Regions from separate parts of the Homo sapiens genome. Here region 1 is linked to region 2. The links come from fine-mapping of genetic effects on plasma protein levels. A gene starts in region 2. The other region holds a variant in brackets. All regions are shown on one strand. Distances are between the middles of the regions. Region 1 overlaps ART3 (ADP-ribosyltransferase 3 (inactive)). Region 2 holds the start of ART3 (ADP-ribosyltransferase 3 (inactive)).

Region 1 (2,930 bases), 35 kb before region 2:
TTTCTTTTTATATATATATATATTTCTAGGTCATGCAGTTTGTCTGCAAGTTTCTTCAAATTGATGCAAATATCCAAAAAGATTTCCAATATATTTATTTAAAAAAAATCCATGTATAAGTGGACCCATGCAGTTCAAACCTGTGTTGTTCAAGGGTCGACTATATATCATCAAGATCTGCTACGCTAGGTTTTATGTAGGATTTCACATGCTTTTACATTTCTATATAGCCAATATAATGATTTTCTGTTGTTCAAGTTCTCTAGCATTTTTTTTTAGCAATTTTTCTATTTCCATTTTCTGTATATACATGCAAGGTAAAGTTTAACTCTGTGTGTCTTCTATTTCAAACAAGATAACCACCAACATACAACTGGATATACAGTCATCCCTCAGTATCCTTTGGGGACTGGTTCTAGAACCCCTGAGGATACCAAAATCCACAGATGCTCAAGTCCCTTATATAAAATAGCATACATAAATAAATAAAATAGCATACACAGTATTTGCATATACCTACACACATCCTCCTGTATACCTTATACTATCTCTAGATTTCTTATAATACCTAATACAATGTAAATGAAATGCAAGTAGTTGTTGTACTGTATGGGTTTTTAAATTTGTATTATTTTTTCCCACAAATATTTTCGATCCACAGTTGGTTGAATCCCAGAGGATACAGAGGGCTAACTATAGCTGCATTGTTTTTTAAACACTAATCTCTGCAAGATGATAAAAAAAAAATAAATGTTTTTCCCTCCATACATACACTGCTGGAGAAACTCTTTCCCTTTCATTTGAACTAGTGGAGAGGAGCAGTGGAGTCCATCCACAGGATAAACTGTTTCATGCTGACCTAAACTCTTTTTGTTTGAACTACGGGGAAGCGTTGACTGGAAGTATCCAAATGGGATCACCACTCAGATTTCATAAATAAAACCAAGAAAAATAGCCAGTCAGATTTGTAAAAGCCTTCATATTATCAATGTACTTGCCATAGTTATAAACATGCAGTTGGATGTATACACACAGAGAAGTGGATAGGCAGATGCACACATGCATTAGTACAGTCGTGCAATGCATAATGATGTTTCCATCAATGACAGACCACATGTATGACAGAGATCCCATAAGACTATAATTATAATAGAGCTGAAAATTTCCTACTGCCTAGCAACATCGTTGCCGTTGTAACATATTACGTGTTTGGGGTGATGATGGTGTAAATAAACCTACTGCACTGCCAGTTGTATAACTGTATAGCACATACAATTATATATAATACATAACATTTGATAATAAACAACTATGTTACTGTTTTATGTACTTACTATACTTTTAATCATTATTTTAGACTGTACTCCTTCAACTTATTAAAAAACGTTAACTATAAAACAGCCTGAGGCAGGTCCTTCAGGAGCTACTCCAGAAGGCATTATCATAGGAGGTGACAGTTCCATGCACGTTACTACCCCTGAAGACCTTCCAGTGGAACAAGATGTGGAGGTGCAAGACAGTGATATTGATGATCCTGACCCTGTATAGGCCTAGGCTAATGTAAATGTTTGTGTCTTAGTTGTTAACAAAAGTTTAAAAAGTTAAAAAAAA[AG/G]GTGATAAAAAAGCTTTATAGAATAGGATATAAAGAAAAAATATTTTTGTACTACTGTACAATGTGTGTTTTAAGCTAAGTGTTATTACAAAAGAGTCAGATTAAAATTAAGTTTATAAAGTAAAACAGTTACATTAAGCTACGGTTAATTTACTATTGAAGAAGGAAAATTTGTTATGAATTTAGTGTAGCCTCTGTATAGTATGTATAAAGTCTACAGGAGTGTACAGTAGTGTCCCAGGCCTTCACATCCGCTCAACACCACCCAGAGCAACTTCTGGGCCTACAAGCTCCATTCATGTTAAGTGCCCTATACACCTGTACCATTTTTTATCTTTTATATTTTTACCATAACTTTTCTATGTTTAGATACACAAATACTTACCACTGTGTTACCGCTGCCTACAGTACTCAACACAATAACATGCTGTAAAGGTTTATAGCCTAGGAGCAGTAGGCTATACCATGTAGCCTACATGTGTAGCAGGGTATACCATCTAGGGTTGGGTAAGTACACACTATGATGTTTGCACAACGACAAAATCACTTAACACATTAATCAGAACATACCCCATCTTGTTAAGCAATGCATGACTGTATGTTACCACAGACCAGTGGTTCTCAGGGGGGCATTACTGCCCCAAGAGGCAGTTTGGACGATTGTCAAGAGTTTTTTGTTTTTTTTTTTAATCATTGCTAACAGTGGAGTGGAGGTAGAGGGATAGATATCCTGCAGTGCTCTAGTTCTGGACCATGAAAAATTGACCAACTTCCTGCACAACTTTAAAATGTACTGCTAGACATACATGTAAGTTAAAACCTATTTAAAATAATCAAACTCAGAACCTAAAGCAGTTTTATGTATATTTTTAATAGTTTTGATAAACATTAAACATCAGTTTTTATTTAGTATCTACTCTATTTCTTCACTCCATTTTCTTATACTTCCTGTATAGAATAGCTTCCAATCTTCTCTTCAACCCAAATTTATTTGCATAAATGTAAACATCGGTCTACTTTAGACATGATGTTGATTTTTATGGGTACAAATGCATCTCATCTATGGATCTTCTTTCTGGATAATATAAGGACTTTATAAAATACTTGTTATAAAGGGAGAATTGGGTTGAGAACCACTGTTCTTTTTTTTTTTAATATATATTTTCTTTTTTATTTTTATATTTTGCTCCCAGTCTTCAGACTGGTAAGAACCACTGTTCTAAGAGTAGAAACTCTAGATACAATGGAAAACGATTATCGAAAAAACAAAGCTATATTGTCCCCAACACACACATGCACACACAAGCTTTTGGATATG
Region 2 (2,930 bases):
ATAAAGAAATTTCAATTCAGTAGACTCAAAAAAGAGGTGTAGGGAAGTAGAATAGGATGACACTGCGTATTTTTTCATTTAGAATGTGAGTGGATAGCATGATGGTCAGGAAGTGATTATCAATAAATTCCTAACGGGCTACAAGAGCCATTAGGCTTTATCTAGTGGTCTAATGCTCTCATTCTACAGACGAGGAAACAAAAACACCTTAGAATTTCAGTGATTTGCTCAAGATTAAATCTGTGCATTTCCATACTCCTCCAGACATGTCATCTCTCCCACCACAGTCACTGGGAGTCATATTTTCTTCCCATCTCTAAATCTCCCCTCAGCGTGCACAGGAAATAACACAATCAGACTAAAAAACAGCAGTCTCAAATTGGTCCCCTAGCTCCCAGTTTCTAAGAATTCCCCAGGAATATGTCCATGCACATTATCCATTCTTCTATCCTCTTTGCACATTGTCATGCCCTTTTGAGTGGGACAGAGGAGATGATGAGGTCAGTAGTGGTACAAAGCAGTGGATTGTCAGAGATGGCCCCCTTCCCCCAAATACAATCAAGAGAAGCCCGAGGGTAAAATAAGTGTCTTACATAACTTTCTGAAGGCGGGAACAAGAATAAGAAGGAACTGGGTAGGCAGCAATTCTAAGATTATACAACTATTGGCCGAATGCCTAATATTCATCCCAGTATTTATGATAATGTAACTCAAATGAAGCTTCTATTTTACCCTACCAATCACCATATTCTGGATTCTAAAAATGAGAATGAACAGCACAGGGGAAGGGAGAAGTCTTCCCTTTTATAGATCATTTTGGCCTCAGTTTCCCATATTTCTTCAGAAGCAGTTTTGTTTTGTTTTTACTAAAAATACTAAAATATAGTACCAACATGCTACTTTGTGTTAAACTTCTCTTTCCAAAAAAGATTTGAATATAAGATGATAGATATCTGTCACAAGGCAATATGTTTTAAGCAAGCTTTGATCAGGATTTTCCTAAAAATTGTTCATTTCTTTAGTCTGAGTGTAAATAAGTCAAAAGGTTTACCTGGCTTTTGTGCCTTTGGAGGAAGTTTAAGTGATGCTAGGCCTCAAACTGACTCCCCACTCTCAGTTGTGGTAAGCAAGTCTTCAGGATGGGATGTTGTTGACAGTGAGAGCTGAGACAGGAATGCTTTTCTTTTTATAAACACCCCCAGCAGTAGCTTGGCAGTGGCACACTACGCTACTTGTGTTCTGCTATTTATATCTGGCCCCCCCACACTATGCCTTGGAATCACTGCTGTTAACACTTTAAATCTCCAAGAGGCTTGTAAAGCCATAGCAATTCCCTTTAGCCACACAGCACATTCAGTTCTGAGCCCACAGTTCTGGGCTTCTCTCAGAGAGAAATGACTTCCCATTCCTAATCCTTTGACACTGAGATATCAAACTAAAGCATGGATTTTACTCTAGGCTAAGTGATTCACATAACTAGGGAAACTTGCTCTGTTAATCACTGGCAATGGTGACAGCTATCACCATTCGCTCAACTAGCTTACTATATTTCAGGTACCTCGTCAGGAGTCGGGATACATAAGCAAGTAAAACAAAGTACTAAAAAGCACTCAAAATCTAATAAAAAACATGAATACGCATACTTAACCAAAATACAACATGTTAAGAATCCCAAGTATAGACAAAGTCCAGTGATAACATTAAGGAGGGAAGGATTTGGTAATGCCTGCAACTACAGCTGTCATTTGAGTAACGCATACATGGTAAATATACTGACTGCAATGCTGAGGAACACTTAGGGTTCACTGACTGTGGATTTAAAAAACACAAAAATGTCCAAAGAAATTCACGCATACATACACCAAAATACATTAATAGAATGTTGATAGTAGCACTATTCATAATAACCCCCAAACTGGAAACCAAATATCCATCAACAGTAGAATGGTTAGACTGTAAGTGAAATTTTATATAGCAATGAAAACGAACAAACTCTGACCATATATAACAATGTGGATAAATCTCACAAACAAAATTTTGAGTAAAAAAAGAGATACAAGCATGTTTATACTGTATGATTTAATTTATATCAAGAACAAAATTAGGCAAAACACTTCCAAGGCATGAGAAGTCAGAATAGTGGTCACCCTGGGTAGTAGCTAGTAACTGGAAAGGGCACAGAGGAGCATCTGAGATGTTAGCTGGGTTCTGCTTTTTGCTATGGATGCCAATTACATTGACAAATTCAGTTTGTGAAAATTCAGTGAGCTATATACTTATGATATGTGTTTTTTTTGTACACACATATATTACTTCAAGAAAACATTTTAAATTATCATGAAATACACCTATATTTACAAAATCCAACTCTACTCTTTAGAATAGAGATATGTTCCAACCTTTTCCCACCTCACTGGCTTGGCAATCCAAGATTAAATACACAGCACAGACTCACTCCCAGAAATAATATGATTTTTTAAAAAGCAGGAGTTTGGTTAGAAAGAAAAAAGAAAGTTTGCATGTCTTCAGGCCTTAGGCTCACAACAACCTGCTTTTAAGTTCCAAGCATGTAGGCCTACAGGAAATGAGGTAGAGAAGTTCTCCTGTCGCTGGCCTCCATTCCTGTTTTGTTCCAGTTTTTAACCAAATTTCTTTCATTCATTCATTGAACAAATATTTGAGTCCTTAAAATGTGCTAGGAACTGTTTTAGGTACTAGAGATATACCAGTGAACGAAATGGATAAATATCTTGCCTTTGTGAAGTTTATATTCTTGTGAGGGAAGGCAGTCAAATAACTAAAATAAGTACGTAAATTATGCAAGTATGTTAGAATGTAGTGAGTGCTATGGTTTTGGCTTTTGTTTATAAGTAGCACAAAGGAGACTAGGAGCGCATGGAGTGTTTGCAATTTAAATTGGATTGTTAGGG

The links. PIP is the chance, under the fine-mapping model, that this variant and not a neighbour inherited with it causes the effect. Protein levels are from the aptamer-based SomaScan assay of Sun 2018.
Region 1: its variant is fine-mapped to the plasma level of the ART3 protein (Sun 2018, PIP 0.95).

Annotation. Positions count from the first base shown.
Region 1 is chr4:76,107,928-76,110,857 of GRCh38, reverse strand. All of the region lies in intron 11 of ART3 (ADP-ribosyltransferase 3 (inactive)), which reads right to left. Among named protein-coding and RNA genes, the nearest start is that of ART3, 35 kb to the right of the region's middle. The variant AG/G (reference allele first, on the strand shown) is at 1,612.
Region 2 is chr4:76,072,941-76,075,870 of GRCh38, reverse strand. It overlaps ART3 (ADP-ribosyltransferase 3 (inactive)), which reads right to left and starts at 1,162. Exons shown (of 12, transcript NM_001130016.3): 1 at 1,052-1,162.